2 separate regions of the Homo sapiens genome follow, and region 1 is linked to region 2. Evidence: fine-mapped expression QTL. Tissue or cell type: whole blood. Region 2 holds a variant in brackets; the other region holds the start of a gene. All regions are shown on one strand. Distances are between the middles of the regions.

Region 1 (8,597 bases), 41 kb after region 2:
ACTTCTGTCATCACTCTTGGTGATATCAATGTCCATGCAGATAACCTGTGCCTTAGGCCACATACCTTGTCTCTCAGTCCTTTGACTTTTCCATATTACCATAACCACTCAGACTGGTTTAACTTAAAATTCCTGATCACAATCACATATCTCACCTTGACTTCCAACACCACCTGACAAACCTCCACATCTGTCCAGTAGGATGAATTTCTCTCTCCCCCGGGTACTGCCTCATACCTTTTCCCTTCTTAAGCCTCCCCACTTGCAACACACACGAACACACCCAAGTCTCCATACCTTCATGAGATGATCCCACTTCACCTTTCACAGAAAAAAAAAAAAAAAAAAAAAACCCAGACATCGTCAGGGAACACGTTCACCTTCCACCACTCTCAACAGCCCTGCCTGTGGCTGCCCCTGGCTTCTCCCGCATTGCCTGTGTTACGGTGGAGAAAGTGGTCTTCTTCCCCCAAGCCATTCCCTTGATACTTGGTGTCAGTGCCTTCTCCCACCTTGATCTTGGCTTTCCCTTCACCACCTCCATCATTCGCTTCCTCTCCATTGGATCCCATTAGCTTACATACATGCTCGGGTATCACCGTGACTCCATATCCTGCCCCAGTCTCTGCCCTCCATCGTGCCAAGCCAGCCAAAAGAGCCAACCACATATACTGCCTCCATGTCTGCGCTTCTTATTCCCTCTGACTCCGGCTCCTACCCCAACCCATGAGGGACTGTCTGGTCATGGCCATCTACAACCCCCATGCTGCCTGACCCAGTGGACGCTTTTCTGTCTTTCTCTCCCTGACCTCTCAGCAGCTTTTGACATACTTTATGAAATAATCATGTGGCGTCTTTGACTCCATATTCTTAGTTCTCCCCTACCTAAATAGGGAGCTCCTCCTCAGCTTTCTTTGCTAAATTATCCCTTCTACCAGACTTTAAAATGTTGGTGTTGTTCAATACTCAGTCCTGGGTCTTTCCTTCTCTCTTTCTTTCCCTACAGTCTCTCCTTAGATGGTCTCATCCATTTCTAATGACTACAAGTATCTCCTAGATTTGAAGAACTCTTTAGTTCAGACTCAAATATTCAATTCGTTACTTGAGATCTCCACTTTTTGAAGACCCCACAATTCCTCTGGCATGCACTCTCCCTTGTAGCCCTAAGCACATAAACCTAACGTGGATTGGCTACTGGCATGTCCCTGGTGGCCTTTGTCTATCAGACTTCAATCATTCAAAGCACAGAGAGATTACATCTGTCCACATGTATATATCTGGTTAGGGGCAGAGCTGAAGTTCAATCCCAAAGAAATCTCACTTCAGGGCCTATGACCTTAACCCCCATACTATGTTTCCCTTTTTAAATAAAGGCAATATGTAAGCTTCTAGTTAACCACTCATGCCCTGGGCTTGAATTCCAACTCTATCACTTACTTAATTTCCCATGGCCTCGGTTTCCTCACCTATACAATGGGAATATTTAGTAACCACCTCATTGGGTTGTTAAGAGGAGTAAATGAGATCATGTAAGCAAAGCACTGAGAACAGGGCCTGGCACAAACTGCAGGCAGTATAAGTGCCCCCCAATGTCAGCTATTATTACTGCTAAATAACATCTGCTTCTTTTGATTACATAGCAATTTAGGTTTGTGGTGGTGATAGATAAACCCAATATTTTTGTTGTCTGTTTGGGAAAGTTTCTTAAGACTATAATTTCCTATGACTTCTGGCTTACTTGAGCTTTTTTTTTTTTTTTTTTTTTTGAGACCGCGTTTTGCTCTTGTTGCCCAGTCTGGAGTGCAATGGCGCGATCTCAGCTCACTGCAACCTCCACCTCCCAGGTTCAAGCGATTCTCCTGCTGCAGCCTCCCAAGTAGCTGGGATTATAGGCATGCACCACCGCGCCAGGCTAATCTTTTTGTATTTTTAGTAGAGACAGGGTTCACCATGTTCGTCAGTCTGGTTTCCAGCTCCTGACCTCAGGTGATCCACCCGCCTCAGCCTCCCAAAGTGCTGGGATTACATGTGTGAGCCACCACACCCAGCTGAGCTTTCAATAGTTTAAATTACAGGGTCCCTCACAGTAACAGAAGGAGGGCAGGGACTCTGTTGTGCTCATTACTGTATCCTGAGCATGTAGAAAGAGGCTGAGTGTTTCCTTTGGTACCTCTCCCGCTAAATGAGGAGCTTTGCAAGAACCAAGTAATGTCTGTGTCTTCTCTAGACACTGCTTTCCTGGACATTACCCTGTTGATGTCTCAAAGAGACACTGGGCTGGGGCATGCGCATGTGTGGGTATGTGATGTTGCTAAGAGATACAGTTCTTTAAATGTGTGATAAGAATCACTGGGGGAATTTTACTTACATGTTTGAAACAACAAAAGAAAAACATATTCTCTGGGAACAAGCTTAACAATCAAGAGTGATCCATTATAAACAAGATCAGAATGACAATCGCCTGCATTAAACGTGACATTTTTGGTATTTGTACATCCATTTTGCTCAGCCTGTTATACTTTAAAAGCTACTTGTCACTTTGTAATTTAGGGAAAAAAAATCTACTAAAATAGTTCATTAACTGGAACACTGTTAAAAACACAGATTTGAGAAATGAAATGCAAAGAAACATAAAATATCTCTCAACCACTATTTCAGTGTCATTTAAGAGAGTGCATTTGGAATTCTTTGATCTGAGTAGAGCTTTCTACCCAACTACTCTCTCAGAGGGGAGCTGGGGTCTCGGGGAACAAAGAGGGGTCACCTGCTTTATATCTCCATGTTTGAGCCTGGTGACCCTCTCAGGTGGCTCCAAGAAAGTAGAAGCTGAAGTCACTTTTGAAGGGCAGAAAGGAGAGATCCAACCCTAACCTGACGACATCCTCTCACCTGGCCTCCTGGGTCCATTGAACTAGCGTGCAACACTCTAGAGCTTTCATGCCCACAGCTGGGCTTGTGATGGCCCCTCTACCTGAGATGACACCACTTCTCTATCCACTGAAATCTTGTTTTTTTTGTTTGTTTTAGTTAAGGCAAAATTCACATAACATAAAATTCACCATTTTAAAGTGCGTACAGCCCGGTGGCATTTAGTACATTTACATTGTTGTGCAACCACCACTTCTATCTAGTTCCAAAACATTTTCATCATCCCCAGGAAAAAACACATTACCCATTAAGCAGATGGGCTCCATTCCTCTTTCCCGCAGTCCCTGGCAACCACCAATCTGTGTTCCATCTCCATGGGTTGACCTATCCTAAGCATTCCATACAAATGGAATCATACGCACAATATGTGATCTTGCGGGTCTTGTTTACTTCACTTAGCATAATATTTTTAGAGGTTCATCATATTGTAGCATGGATTAGTACATTTCCTTCCTTTTATGGCTGAATACTATTCCATTGTATGTATATAACACACTTGTTTATGCATTCATCCATTTAGGGACATTTGGGTTGTTTCCACCTTTTGACTATTGTAAATAATAATTCCATTAAAATGTGTATATAAACATTGATTTGAGTACCTGTTTTCAATTCTTTGGTTACATCCCTAGGAGTGGAACTGCTAGATCACAGAATAAGTCTACACTGAACTTTTTAAGGAACTCCCAAATTGTTTTCCACAGCAGCTGTCCCATTTTACATTCCCACCAGCAATGTACAATGGTTCCAATTTCTCTACATTCTCGCCAACATTTGTTATTCGGTTTGTTTGGACATTTTTTGGAGTAGCCGTTCTAGTGGGGATGAAGTGTGCCTACTTCATACCACTTCACTGTTATCTGGTGAAATCTTAACTCATCCTTCTGTGCCCAGTTTTCATGTCACCGTGATTTGAAAACTTCCCTGAGTTTACAAGCTCACCGCTGAGGAGTGAACTGCCTGAGCTCTGTGCCCTGAAGCCCCCCCGGGGGCGGGGGGAGCCAGCTATGTCAGTGTCTCCCTGGGAGGCTGTGCCCTTCTCTAGGGCAGGGCTGCACTGTATTCATTTTCGCATCTCTACTGCTCAGCACAATGCCTGACGCATAATGAGTGCCCCCAAAATATCTTCAAGTCCTAGTCCTTGAGCTGAGGTTTCTGCAGTATCAGTTCACCAATGGAGAGGGACATGATGGCTTCTTTGTGCTCAACTGGGACCCAAAGCAGAGATGAATCGTCCTAGCAGGGCTCTAAGCCTGAAAGACCCAACTTTATAGTTTTACCCCTGCCTGTATTCTGCTCCAGAAGCTGCTGACATACCTTTAAAGAGGATGATAAACCTAAGCTCCCAGGCATGGAGACTGAATGGCTTCAGGTGTAAGACGGCATTGGGCAACACAGATAAATAGACAATAAATCAGATGGGGCCCGTGGCCTTTGGCCAGGACACAGTAACTTCTGTGACTTTATTCTGGGTGGCCTTGTCCAGGCCAGCAGAGCTTCCGGCAGCAGCTTCGACTGTTTCCATGCAGAGACACCTGGGAACTGCATCTGCGCTTTGATTTCCGCGAAGGAAACTGTCATTTTCTCCCATATTCATTCTTCCTAACCCCATCTCCCCGAGACAAACGGCAGAATGTTTTGAAGGCCCCAGAGTACACTGATAGTTGGCTAGACGAGAAAAATTCAACGAGCGCCTATTTATGTATTTGTTGCGCTCCCAGGCTCGGGAAATAACCTTGGGAATATTTGGGAGAGTAACCCAAACATTTCTCAACTAGTGGGATATCCTGGAGGGGATGTTACTGGAAAACAAATACACTGGGTTGCAATTTCTTTCTTTCCAACTGGGCCACCTTCTCCAAGTCACCTGCCGCGCTAACGCTTCAGTATTCCCATCTGTAATCAGGAAACTGATTCCTGATCTTACATAAAAACCACCGCGGTAGGAGCCCCTTGAGAATGTTCTTAAGAAGCCAGGAGCGCAATAGCAGGCACAGCAGGGACCACCCAGCGCAACCCCCGATTTAAGTTTCTATCACGACTCGCAACTCGCGGCTTCCCTCCGGCGAGGGAATGGGAGCGGGGGCGGAGGGGTCGCAGGTGCAGCCCGGAGAAACTGGGTGAGTCGATGGTAAGGACCCGGCTCCCGCTCCCCCGCGGGACACCACACCCGCGCCCCCCGGGCAGTGGTGGCGCAGGGCCCCTACCTTGCCGTACTTCTTCAGCTTCCTCCGGTACCTCTTCCTGGGCTGCTCGCTCGGCGCCGGCTCCTCCAGTGGCTCGTAGCGCTCGGGCAGGAGGGCGAAGTGCACCCTCCGCGCGCCCCGGGTCCCCGGGCCCCGCTCGTCCGCCGCGCTCGTCCCGCTCTCGGCCGCCGCCTCCGCCTCGTCCGCGTACTCCAGGTGCTCCAGGATGGCGGCCGCCTCCTCGTCCCCCTCGGTTCGCCCTCGCCCTCGGGGCCCGCGGCGCAGGAGGCTGCTCTCCGCCTTGCTTCGGAGCCTGGCTCCCACCGTCATGATGTCCCGGCCCCTCTGGCGAAGGTCCGAGCGCAAAGACACCAACCTTTGGTCCCCGCCCGCTCCTCCGCCCCAGCCCGGACGGGGCGGGGGATTGGGGGGGCCGCAGCGCCCCCTGGCCGTGGGGCCCGGGATAGCGTTGGCTCCGCTCCGAACTGGCCTACCAGGCGGCGGGCGCGCTCCGCCAGCCCCGCCCTTCATCCCACCTGCCGGCCAAACTGTGCAGACTACGGCGCGCACTGCACAATGAACATGCAAAACACCTTCAACTGCACTTGCTACGAAATTAATGACCCCAAATAATAGGACTCCATCTGCTCATGTTCAAATTAGCAACGATGGAAAATGATACTAGAGATCACGCTCAGTGCTAGGGAGGGCATGGCGAGATAGTCACGGTAACAGGATTCGTGGGAGTGCAAATTGGTGGCAAGGTTTTGGAGAGACGATCAGAAAATCTTTATCGTGAGTCTTAGGAAACGTCCGTATTCTAGGAAATATTCGGAAACGCAAGACAGTGTGTCCACGGTGTTCAACGGTCTGACTCAGTGAAAAAGTGGAGCAAACCAACAGGGAGGCGCAAAGGAAATTCTGGTGCAGACATGCCAGCATATGGCGCAGTCTTTAAAATCATGATTTTCAGGAATATCTCTCTGTGAGATAAGCATTATCAGTGTACTGTGAATCTCAACAAGCTGAGAGTGCCCTATTTTCTTAAGTGGGTAAATGCCTTTGAATTCTGGCTAATGTAGAATTAAGGGCCGAAAGCAGTGGCTCACGCCTGTAATCCCAGCACTTTGAGAGGCCGGGAGGATAGCTTCAGCCCAGGAGTTGGGGAACAGCCTGGGCAACATAGTGAGACCTCCATCTCTAGAAAAAAAAAAAAAAATTAGCCAGGCGTAGGGGCGCACACCTGTGATCCCAGCTATTCAGGAGGATCGCTTGGGCCTGGGAGTTTGAGACTAGCCTGGGCAACACAGGGAGACCTCATCTCTAGAAATAGAAAAACAAATACAAAAGTTTACCTGTAGTCCCAGTGAGGTAGGGAGATCGCTTGATCCTGGAAGGTGGAGATTGCAGTGAGCTATGATTGTGCCACTGCGCTCCAAAGGGGTCGACAGAGTGAGATCCCATCTCAAAAAAATACTTAGGTATAAAATAACATAGATTGTTAGATACACTGATATTTTAACATTAAAGTTTGTGATTAAATTTAAGAATAACGTGTATATGTTGGTATAAGCACATACAATGTTTACGACAATTTAGTTCACTAGGATGCAAAAGAAATTAGTTTTGTGATTCCAACTTAAAATGTGAGCCAGCATGGTGACTTTCACCTGTAATCCCAGCAACTCCACAGGCTGTGGTGGGAGGATCCCTTGAGGCTAGGAGTTCTGAGCAACGTAGGCCCCATTTCTAAAAAAGTGAAAATGTGTGGCTCGGTGCGGTGACTCACACCTGTAATCCCAACACTTTGGGAGACCAAGGCGGTGGATCACCTGAGGTCAGGAGTTCGAGACCAGCCTGGCCAATATAGTGAAACCCTGTCTCTACTAAAAATACAAAAATTAGCCAGGCATGGTGGCGTGCTCCTGTAGTCTCAGCTATTCGGCAGGCTGAGGAGGAGAATCGCTTAAACCCAAGAGGCAGAGGTTGCAGTGAGCGGAGATCGTGCCACGGCACTCCAGCCTGGGCAACAGAGTGAGACTCTGTCTCAAAAAAAAAAAAAAAAGTAATCAGCTAATTGATTTACGCTTTTATTTAACTTATGTAATAAGGTAATAAGTAATGACTTATATTTAATCTTAAAAACATAGAGTCTTTATATGTAAAATAGTATATAAAATTTATGTACAATTCAATTTCAGGTGAAATGGGTATGAAAATGAATTTAACTTACTATATTTATAAGAATTACTTAGAGTTTTGTTATAGAATTGAAGTACTTGAAAAGAAAGTCAAATATTAAATTTGTAAAAGTTGCTTGAAATGTTTAGGAGAATTAACTAAACAGTAAAAGTGCCTCCTTACAGTAATTGTAAAATTTTATCGGGTGAGTAAATAGTTTAAAACAGTATGTAATTTGAATTTAAAAGGTTAAGAGAAAGTAGATTTGTAGATTTGTAATTTTGCTAAAGCAACTATTACTTTATAAACAAACAGAGACCCTTGTAGTCCCTTTTTTTTTTGTACAAAACCGACCTCAAAGAACCCTAGGCTGCTTATCAAATGGTGATATAGTTTGGTTCTATGTCCCCACCAAATTTCATGTTGAATTGTAATCCCCACTGTTGGAGGTGGGGCCTGGTGGGAGGTGATTGGATCATGAGGGTGGCCCTTCATGAATGACTTAGCACCATCCCCTCAGTGCTATCCTAGTAATAGTGAGTGAGTTATCGCGAGATCTGGTCGTTTAAAAGTGGGTGGTGTGCACCTCCCCCTTCTCTCTCTCATCTTCCTTCTTTGGCCATGTTTGCGTGTTTCCCCTTTACTTTCTGCCATGATTGTAAGTTTCCTGAGGCCTCCCCAGAAGCAGAAGCCATCATGCTTCCTGTATAGCCAGCAGAACTGTGAGCAAATTAACCCTCTTTTCTTTATAAATTACTGAGTCTCAGGTATTTCTTTATAGCAGTGCAAGAACGGACTAATACAAATAGAGACGAAGGTAGAACATCCATGGGCCTAAAATGTGTTTTTGTCAGTACAAAATACTGTTCAAATATCACAACAACATTTAGTTTGCCTTTAAAGGCAAAACACTAGAACAATTAAAAATTGATCTCCAGATTAAGTCTCTATAACCAGTGAACAAGCAGAATTTAAGGAGATGTAATCAGAAACTGTCTTTATGTTGCATTCCCTTGTCTCTCTACAAGTTATTCTGTTCAGAGAATGAGTCTCTTGCTCCTCGGTGAAAACTTAGGTAGTCTTGTAGGGTTTTTTGTTTGTTTGTTTGTTTGAGACAGAGTTTCACTCTTGTTGCCCAGGCTGGAGTGCAATGGTGCGATCTTGGCTCACGGCAATCTCCGCCTCCCAGGTTCAAGTGATACTCCTGCCTCAGCCTCCCGAGTAGCTGGGATTAGAGGCATGCGCCACCATGCCTGGCTAATTTTATATTTTCTAGTAGATACGGGGTTTCTCCATGTTGGT
Region 2 (11,366 bases):
ATAAAATCAGAGATGAAAAGGAGACATTACAACTGATACCACAGAAATTCAAAGGATAAGTAAAGCTACTATGAGTAGGTACGTGCCAATAAATTGGAAAACTTCAGTAAAGTTGCAGGATATAAAAGCAAAAAGCAAAAATCAGTAGCATATCTATATGCCAACAGCAAACAATCTTAAAAGAAATCAAAAAAAGTAATTCCATTTACAATAGCTACAAATAAAATTAAATACCTAGGAATTAACCAAAGAAGTGAAAGATCTCTACAGTGAAAACTATAGAACACTGATGAAAGAAACTGAAGAAGACACAAAAAAGTGGAATGATATTCAATGTTCATGGATGGAAGAATCAATGTTAAAATGTCCATACTACCCAAAGCAATCTACAGATTCAATGCAATCTACAGATCCAATGCAATCTCTATCAAAATATCAATGACATTCTTCCCAGAAATAAAAGAAACAATCCTAAAATTTATATGGACCCACAAAAGACCCAGAATACCCAAAGCTATCCTAAGCAAAAAAATAAAACTGAAGGAATCACTTTACCTCATCTCAAATTATACTACAGAGCTATGGTAACCAATACAGCACGGTACTGGCATAGAAATGGACACATAGACTAATAGAACAGAATAGAGAACCCACCAATAAATTTATATATCTACAGTGAGCTTATTTTCACAAAGGCACCAAGAATATACACTGGGGAAAGAACAGTCTCTTCAATAAGTGGTACTGGGAAAACTGGATATCCATATGCAGAAGAAAAAGCTAGACCCCTACCTCTCACCATATACAAAAATCAAATCAAAATGGATTAAAGACTTCAATCTAAGACCTCAAACTATGAAACGACTAAAAGAAAACTTTGGGGAAACTATCCAGGACATTGGACTGGGCAAAGATTTCTTGAGTAACACCCCACAAGCATAGGCAACCAAAGCAAAAATGGACAAATGGGATCACATCCAGTTAAAAAGCTTCTGGACAGCAAAGGAAACAATCAACAAAGTGAAGAGATAACCCACAAAATGGGAGAAAGCATTTGCAAACTACTTGTCTGACAAGGGATTAATAACAAGAATGCATAAGGAGCTCAAACAACTCTATAGGAACAAATCTAATCTGATTTTAAAATGGGTAAAAAATCTGAATAGACATTTCTCAAAAGAAGACATGCAAATGGCAAACAGGCATATGAAAAGGTACTCGACATCACTGATCATCAGAGACATGCAAATCAATACTATAATAAGATATCACCTCAGCTCAGTTAAGATGGCTTTTATCCAAAAGACAGGCGGTAACAAATTCTGGTAAGGATGTAGAGAAAAGGGAACCCTGGCACACTGTTGGTGGGAATATAAATTAGTACAGCCACAATGGAGAACAGTTTGGAGGTTCTTCAAAAAACTAAAAATAGAGCAACCATAAGATCCAGCAATCTCATTGCTGGGTATATACTCAAAAGAAAGGAAATCAGTATATGAAAGAGATATCTACACTCTCATGTTTATTGCAGCACTATTCACAATAACCAAGATTTGAAAGAAACCTACTACATGTCCATCAACAGATTAATGGATAAAGAAAATGAGGCACATATACACAATGGAGTATTCAGCCATAGAAAAGAATGAGATCCTGTCATTTGCAACAACATAGTCAGTACCGGAGGTCATTGCATTAAGTGAAATAAGTCAGGCACAATAATACAAACTTCACAGGTTCTCATTTATTTCTGAGATCTAAAAATCAAAACAATTGAACTCATAGAGATAGAGAGTAGAAATATGGTTATCGGAGGCTGGGAAGAGTTGGGAGTTTGGGTAGTGGGGATGGTTAATGGGTACAAAAAATAGAAAGAATGAATAAGGTCAACTATTTGATAGCACAACTGGGTGACTATAATCAATACTAATTTAATTGCACACTTCAAAAGAGTGTAATTGGATTTTTTGTAACACAAAGGATAAATGCTTGATGTGATGGATACCCCATTTACCCTGATGTAAATTTTTTATTTTTTATTTTTTATTTTATTTATTTATTTATTTATTTATTTATTTATTTATTTATTTATTTATTTTGAGACGGAGTCTCCCTCTGTTTCCCAGGCTGCAGTTCAATGGAGCGATCTCGGCTCACTGCAACCTCCACCTCCCGGATTGAAGCAATTCTCCCACCTCAGCCTCCCAAGTAGCTGGGACTACAGGCGCCCGCCACCACGCCTGGCTAATTTTTGTGTTTTTAGAAGAGGCAGGGTTTCACCAGGTTGGCCAGACTGCTCCGAACTCCTGACCCCAAGTGATCCGCCGTCTCGGCCTCCCAAAGTGCTGGGATTAGAGGCATGAGCCACCGCGCCCGGCTTTTTTTTTTTTCTGTTTTCTTGAGACGGAGCCTCGCTCTGTCACCAGGCTGGAGTGTAGTGGCGCGATCTCGGCTCACTGCAACCTCCGCCTCCCGGGTTCAAGCGATTCTCCCGCCTCAGCCTCCTGAGTAGCGGTACTACAGGCACGCGCCACCATGCCCAGCTAATTTTTGTATATTAAGTAGAGATGGGGTTTCACCATGTTGGCCAGGATGGTCTCAATCTATTGACCTTGTGATCCACCTGCCTCGGCCTCCCAAAGTGCTGGGATTACAGGCATGAGCCACTACGCCCAGCCCCTGATGTGATTATTATGCATTGCATGCCTGTATCAAAATATCTCTTGTATCCCATAAAAACATACACCTACTATGTACCCACAAAAATTAAAAATTAAAATAAAAACAGGAGTTTGAGGCTTTAGTGAGCTATAATCATGCCACTGCACTCCAGCCTGGGTGACAAAGCAAGACTGTGTCAAAAACAAAAGTCCCCTTAAAAAAGTGATTGAAAACAAGAAAGGAAGGAAGGAAGGGGGAGAATGAAATGATAAGCTATGTATAGTGATCTTCAAAGTTAAAGAATATTTTTTAACTTGAAACATTAGTAAGTACAATGTTAATTTTTAAAAATCAATGTAGCCTTGTTTAGGGCCTTTAGGGCCTTGTAACAAAAAATATATATACACACACTTATATACATATAGATTTATATGTAATATATTTCTATTTATTTAATATAAATATATATTATATATTTACATTTATTTAATAGAAATATATTATATAAGTACATAGTTATATAGTATAATTAATTATTAATTATAAATATATATTTAGAATATACATAATTTATAGTATATATTTACATATATACATATTTACATATAATACATACTATAAATTATATCTTACATATTATATAAATATAAACATTTATACATATTATACACATGTATAATATGTATCCCTGTGCCGTTTTATCCATTCATAGTGACTAACATCTCTGCATGCCCACAAGTTTCTCTTCCTCCCTGTGAGGATTTGACCTGGGAGAACAAACCAGCTCAGCTCAGGGAGAGTTACTTGTGTATTAGTCGGGCACCTCTTTAGATTGCAAGGAGAAGACACACATTCAGATTAGGTTAGGTTTGGGGGTTGTCATCAGGATACCCAGGGAAGTAATGCCTCAACGGCCAAACGTGTGTCCCAGAACAACATCTGAGGCGGCTAAGAGCTCAAAAGGGCTCCAGGAGAACAAGCACAAGGGTCAGTTGTTGTCCAAGCGTGAGCAACTTTCATTCACGCCCTGCTATACGCTAGATGCTAGTATGTAGTCTTTAATAATGATAGAGGAAGATAGAGTGTCTGATCTTGAGAAGCCAGTAAATCGCTAAGGTAGCATATCGGGAAATAGCCACTTCAATCCTGGCTGGAAAGTAGAGAGCAAAGGCCAGGAGAGAGGAGTGTACTAGGAAGGTAAACAAGCACAGATGGTAGAAAAAATTATACTGCACGCAGAGGAATGTGGACTTCATTCCACATAAGTGAGTAACATCATGTACCAATAAGAAGAGAAACTGGGTGGCTGGAAACATGAATATAATGGAAAGTTTTCATTTGTATACTTAAGCTTTTTGAATTTTGAACTGTGAAAAGTATTACTTGTTCAAAAAATTCAAAAATAAAATTATTTAAAAATCCAATGCAATGATTCTGGTGGTGTACTAGGCTCTGGGAGAGCGAAACAGCAAATATTCCCTATCAGCCTACAATCTACTAGATATTTTTAAAGTTTTATGGCTCATCGGTGACACAACACAGCTTTAGGTAGATTCCCAATATCAAAACATGTGTAAACAAATAATTATAAGAAAAATAGTAATTGTTTTCCTAAAGATATGGGCTTAGAGCTTTGAAAGTGCATGTTGTGGGCTGGGCAGCTTATTCTGCTTGAAGGTTAGTGGGAGGTAACATGTAAACTGGGATACGAAGAACGCATGCATAGGAGCTTCAAAAATGGAAAAGAGAGTAAAAGCAATTAATCAACGAGAAATACAATTTTCCAAAAAAAAAAAGAAATGTTTTTGGAGGAAAATAGTTTCGTATGATGATCGGACCAGCAAAGGGAATGACAGGAGGTGAGGCTAACAGTCGGGATGAGAACAAATTGTGCAGGCTTTGCCTGTTGTCTTAAGAACTATGAATTTCTACCCCAGAAAGCTCAAAAAACCCTTCATGGGCATTGGCATTCTGGAAGTTGGTGAATATGTACCTTTAGGAAAATGGATTTTATCTCCAAATAGTGGGGAAAAAAATTAATGGGAATTTCTTTTTCTATTTTGAGTTTTTTTCCCCATAATTTTTACTGAAACTTTCTGGTTTTATTCTGGTTAATATAGGAAGTTAAGAAAATCAGTATATAGCCAGCAAATATAGATGGGAAAACTCAGAAGCAAGTATGTTAAGAATGTTTGTTCTTTTTTTCTCCTTGTCAAATATGTTCACAGTTGTGATTTTTATATATCATATAAGATATCTTCTGTTACCAGGATCGCTCCTTGTCAATGTGTTGGGATTAACTATCATCAATGTTTCATCTTTTCCACAAGAAATCAAAGCTTCCTGACGGTTTGCAGCCCCCCCACAGCCTGGCCCATAGCTTGTTTTATTTGGCTTACACAGTTGTTTTAATCGGGAAGTGTCTAGCTTGTCTTTTAAAATCAAAATATCTGGCAATATGAGGTCTATATTCAGCATAATGAGAAGCAAACGGACCTGACTGGAGCCTGTCCCCTGTAGGCATCACCGCCCTGTAGGAGCCCCAGTTCCCGCCCACCCAGAGTTCAACCGGACCCCCTCCTTCAGCTTTTGACTTTGGCCCGGGTTAGACGGGGGATTTCCCGGGCAGTTGCTCCGGATTTACACGAGGGGGCGCTGTGATCAGGGTTTTGGACGGAAGGGTGGGGAGGAAATGCTTGAA[G/C]CTGGTTCTAACCGGAAGTGAAAGGAAACCCTCCTTTCCTTTCTGGTGAGTAAGTCCTAAGGAACAACCTCCTGTTACCCAACTCAGTGAAGAGTCGGGACTAAGAGTATTTTGAAATAGGAGGAATACTATATTTGAAATGTCAGAAGTCATAGAAAAGTGTGGGAGAAACAATGCCACACTTTTCTATTTTCCCTGCCATTTGAATAATACTTTGCAGTCTATAAAACTCTGTCGGAAGCAGAAGGCTATTCGGTCCTCACAGCAATCCCATGTCCGAAGTAGGAGAAGGCACTTGCTCCTGCAATAGCCGAGCCACTCAGAGTTCCTCGTCTCACCTAGGAGCGCCTACCCAGCCAGAAAGGGGAGGTCCCATGGCTGCTTCCTCACACTTTCCTTTTTAGGGGAGGAGGAGGAGGGGGAAAGGCCCTGGAGAAGGACAGGGTGCCAAGAATATGTGGCGAGAGGAAGGGACAGGCCAGAAGAAATAAGTTGAGAGATCAGTCCCAGGAAACTTCCTACCTAGAAGATGCCCTTCCTTGGCTGGGACTTGTGCCTCTCCCTGTGTATCTCAGGCACAGTCAATCTCAGTTTGTATTTGTTAAGTAAATAAATTACCCGAGGCATCTGTTGGGTCTTAACCTGTATATGGGAAGGGCCCTGTTATTCCATCAATATTAGTTACAAAATTATGGGGGCTTGGGCTGATGACACTGAGGGTCCGGGGACCTTCTCACCTCTGGTCAACCCTGCCCTGGATGGCCCCTAAGCTCTATCAGTGGCCCTGACTGTGTGTCTTTGTGGCTTTGATTTTGACGATGTTATCAACCAGGATGCAGAATCCTGCTTCCTCTCCCAGTTTTCATTTGCTTTTTTTCTGTGTTTGTTTTCTTTGGCTGCTACAGGGAGATTTGCTTTTCATCTTGGCAGCACGTGCCCCACTCAGAGTGGAAGAAGGCTATGGCAGGATACAGTGTTTTGGGAAGGGAAGAGAATCTCCTTGCTTGGGGACATCCTTTCCAAAACAAATTCCCTGTAAAGTCAAGTCCTGCTAGTGTTTCCCTCCAACCTCTCTGTGTTCTACTACTCGCCCAAGAAAAAAATTATACGAAGTGTCTCCTCACCCATGTTTAGTCACAAAAGACCTCTGTTTCCCAGGCTCCCTTTCATTCTACTTATTCATCAGTTCATCAATTGATTCGTCCATTCATTCATTTATTCTGTGACAGTCTTTACTCTTTCCTAAGTATGACCAGAAAATAATGACGTAAGTATGATCTACTCTACAGCATGTAGGTTGTAAGCATTGTTATGGTCTTTTTTAAAATTAAGATACAACTCACAAAACATAAAATGTACCATTTTAAAGTGTACAATTGTATTTGTCCATTTTCATGCTGCTGATAAAGACATACCCTAGACTGGGTAATTTATAAAGAAGAAGAGGATTGAGGGACTCACAGTTCCATGTGGCTGGAGAGGCCTCACAAACATGGCGGAAGGTGAAAGGCACATCTTACATGACAGCAGGCAAGACAGAGTGAGAGCCAAGCAAAAGGGGAAACCCCCTATAAAACCATCAGATCTTGTGAGACTTATTCACTACCACAAGAACAGTATGGGGAAAACTGCCCCCATGATTCGATTATCTCCCACCGAGTCCCTCCCACAACACGTGGGAATTATGGGAGCTATAATTCAAGATGAGATTTGCGTGGGGACACAACAAAACCATATCAACATTCCATTGTTTTGTAGTATATTCACCCTATTATGCAACGATCACTTCTCATTCCAGAATATTTCTATCACCACAGAAGGAAACCTCATACCTATAGCAGTCAGTCCCAGCTCTGCTCCCCTTATCCCCTGGCAACCACTAATTTGCTTTCTGTCTCTGAGGATTTGCCTATTCTGGACATTTCATATAAATGGAATGACACAATATGTGGCTTTTTGTGTTTGACTTCTTTTATTTAGCATAATGTTTCCATGTTTCATCCCTGAGCATACAGCATATAACAACAGAACATTCCTTTTTATAGCTGAATAATATTTCATCATATGGATAGGCCACATTTTGTTTATCTAGTCATCAGTTGATGAACTTTGTTCTGGCTGTTATTAATAATACTACTATGAACACTCATGTACATATTTTCTTTTCTTTTCTTTTTTTTTTTTTGAGTCAGGCCTTGTTCTGTTGCCCAGGCTGGAGTGCAGTGGCACAATCACAATTCACTGCAGCCTTGACCTCCTGGGCTCAAGCAGTCCTTCCAGCTCAGCCTCCTGAGTAGCTGGGTCTACAGGCACACACCACCACACCTGGCTAATTCTTGTAAGATAACATATTTTCAGTACTCATGGGTCTATATTGGAGTGGATTCATTGGGTCCTGTGCTAATTCTGTGTTTAACTTTTTGAAGAAAAACTACCAAATGATTTTCTACAGTGACTGTACCATTTTAGATTCCTTCCAACAATGTTGAAGTTCCCTTTCTTTCGTAACACAAGCAATTTAAGGGATTGCTTAAATGGTCTTAGATGAATCTGTCATCAAGGTGGGGGAGGGCATGAATTGATATTTGCACAGTGCCTGTGCAGAGACACCTGACAGTAACCCTTAGGACGCTGGATAATTTATCCCAAGCCATGGTGAGGAAAATGGGAAGGAATAAGGCAGTCAGTAACATGGAGCAGATTTGCCAATCTCTTACCCTCATCAATTTAGGGATTGTGTTGGTCTTTAACAGATGGAGAAGAGGTCTGAGAACATTTAATACATGTCCACTGCTGAAGGAGCAAAAGAGTGTAGGCCTGCATTTTGCCTCTCTCCTGTAAGACTTCTGAGGTGCCTTTGAACCCAAGCCTCAGAGAATGAACAGCAGTGGCAAAGACAATGCCCTTTATAAGTGTGTAGAGGGTTGAGGAAATGGTTGGGGTGGGGGGCTTTTCTGTAGAACTGCCCTCTTTTCATGTTCCCTTCAAAGGGTACAGTGAAACAGAATACTGTATTGTCAACTAATTTATAAAAAAATGGGCTCAATACATCCTGCTATAGAAATTCCATCAATGTACTAGAAAACTTACATTTATCAGAGTTCATCTATTGAATAGCAGCTGGAGTTGTGTGTGTTCATGGATGTGGAATGAGAATACAGAAGTTCAATCTTTATAAGCACACAGCAGAAACACTGTAGGTAGAAGGGTCAATTTGAGACCATCCCTGCCCATCTTTGATTGGCCTGTGAAACACAACAGGAAACTAATTCATCTGAAAGATGTGCTAAAAACACTTGTTGGCTTTAACAAAAGGAATCTTGGCTGATTTTACATTAAAACTTCTAACAAAGGAAAATAAATGCTCTTGGGTGGAGAACATGTCTTTATAACCAAACTCCACAATTGTTACCATATAAATAATTTTTCTTTATAAAAGAATAAAAATATATATGTACCTACATATATGTATGTGTATATGTAAAAGACAAATATAAAACTTCAAATAAATTATTTTGCTTTGGATAACTCACTTGAGCCTTTGACAGTGTGAGAATGTTTTTCTTGGCCGGGCGTGGTGGCTCATGCCTGTAATCTCAGCACTTTGGGAGGCCAAGGCGGGTGGATCACTTAAGGCCAGGAATTTGAGACCAGCCTGGCCAACATGGTGAAACCCATCTCTACTAAAAATACAAAACTTAGCTGGGCGTAGTGGCACGCACCTGCAATCCCAGCTACTAGGGAAGCTGAGACCAGAGAATCGTTTGAACCCGGGAGGTGGAGGTTGCAGGGAGCCAAGATGGCACCACTGCACTCCAGCTTGGGTGACAGAGCAAGACTCTGTCTCAAAAAAAGAAGAAGAAGAAGAAGGAGGAGAGAAAATGTCTTTCTTTGTCTCTCAGTAATCAAAATGGGGAATCAATATATTTAGTAATGCTCACCCCACCTGGCCTCATCAGCATCTTCCCCACGATTATCTCTTTTAGTGTTGTTTGCTCACCACAAGCTGTAATATTGATACATATGAATTATGACTGAGCATCTATTATATGCAAGACTCTTACATTTGCAAAACAAATTTGGGAGCATTCTTCTCCCTACAATCTTAGAATCAAGTGTATAAAATATACATATACATAAATGTATAAATAAATAAATATAATACAAGGTGGAAAGTGATGAAGGTCATGTGGGAGGTTGGAACCTAGTGATATAGAGATTCAAAGGGAGGAAAAATAACTTTTGGTGTGGAGTCAAGAGAAAGATTCTATTCTTGTTGAGAAAGGCTGAAAAGCATATTTTGAATGGGGAGCTCACTCTGGTACCAGGGCAGCTATTAAGAGAAGTTTTAAAAGGAAATGCCCAATTAGACTTGTGGTGACTATGCTAGATACTCAGTTAAAAGAAGAGAGAGTTTGTACATGTGCCTCATTTAGGCCTTGTTCCCTTCCTTTCGCTGCATGAATAATTAGTTTTTGAGACCTAAAAGTCCATCTTCCACCCAATTAGTTCCTCTAATTAAAAGCCATCATGATGACAAACGTTTTCTCTCACATCCTTCATTTTTCCAAATCTAAATGCACAGCTTCTAGAGGTTCTCTTCCAGTTCAAAGTTTTTACAATTTGAGAATAATGAAAAATGACCAGCTTTCCCTAATCATATGTATAGGAAAGTGTGTACCTTAGGATTTTGATACTCCTTGAGGAAGGCCATGTGGATTTCTTTTCTTTTCTTTTTTTTTTTTTGAGATGGAGTCTCGCTCTGCCGCCTAGGCTGGAGTGTAGTGGTGCGATCTCGGCTCACTGCAAGCTCCGCCTGCCGGGTTCACACCATTCTCCTGCCTCAGCCTCTCGAGTAGCTGGGAATACAGGTGCCCGCCACCATGCCTGGCTAATTTTTTTGTATTTTTAGTAGAGATGGGGTTTCACCGTGTTAGCCAGGATGGTCTTGATCTCCTGACCTCATGATCTGCCCACCTCGGCCTCCCAAAGTGCTGGGATTACAGGCGTGAGCCACCGCGCCCAGCTGCCCGTGTGGATTTCAAGTATCATACAGAAAGCCCAAGTCCACAGCTTGGAATGTTCCTAGTCATTATTAGGATGATTAATGAAAAAATTCCAAAAGCCAATATGGACTCAGATTAGAAGCATCAAAAACTCCCCACTCTGGCTCACTTTATCGTGACTCTGCTGAGCATGTGGTATAATAAAGACAGTGGGTTAATTAGGAGAGAATATTATAGTAAGGAAATATAGGTCTCACCTATAGAAACTTCAGGAAAGGTTTACTGCTTTAGCTTGGCTTGACATGGTACAAAGCCCACTTCCATAATTCATTCATGCAACAAACTATGTCTGGTAGGTACTGAGGATCTAATGGTAAACAAGAGAAAAACAATCCTGCCTTCAAAGCGGCCACAATGAAATCATCAATGTTTTCCAGGTTTCTTTGGGCCAAGCTGACTGCTTTCTTTTGCAATATCCTAAAGTGCTGAGGAAGCAATAACTAAAAGGAGGAGTCTTTGGCAATGATAACAGCAATCATTATAAAAACAGAGGCCTGGTTTCCAATAATATTAAATAGTAGACTAGAAAACTAAGACACATACAAGAATGTTTTGGGCAGCATTATTGGTGATAGACAAAACCAACCCAAATGTCCCTCAACAGCACAATAGATAGATAAGTTGTGGTGTATTTATTCAGCAAATGAATGTACAGCAAATAAAAATGAACAAACTATAGCTACACACACACACACACGAGTTAAACTTTTTTTAAAAATGAGCCAAAGAATCCAGACAATAAAATAATACATACTGTGTGATTCCATTCCTATAAAGTTCAAAACCAGGAAAAACTAAAACACGATGTCAAGGGATACACAAGATGGTGGTGAAACCACAAAAAGACGCAATCAGGTAATAACCATAAAACCAGGCTGTGGTTTCATGTAGAAGGGAGAGTAGGTGATGTGACTGGGAAGAAGCAGGGGGAAACTTCT

The links. PIP is the estimated chance that this variant, and not a neighbour inherited with it, causes the effect.
Region 1: it holds the start of C1orf115, and the variant in region 2 is fine-mapped to the expression of C1orf115 in whole blood (TOPMed, PIP above 0.99). The same link has a PIP of 0.9 or more in lung and monocytes.

What each region holds. Positions count from the first base shown.
Region 1 is chr1:220,687,250-220,695,846 of GRCh38, reverse strand. It overlaps C1orf115 (chromosome 1 open reading frame 115), which reads right to left and starts at 5,484. Exons shown (of 2, transcript NM_024709.5): 1 at 5,136-5,484. The coding sequence starts at 5,444. RefSeq lists a silencer at 5,414-5,653.
Region 2 is chr1:220,727,202-220,738,567 of GRCh38, reverse strand. No RefSeq gene overlaps it. Among named protein-coding and RNA genes, the nearest start is that of MTARC2, 15 kb to the left of the region's middle. The variant G/C (reference allele first, on the strand shown) is at 5,363.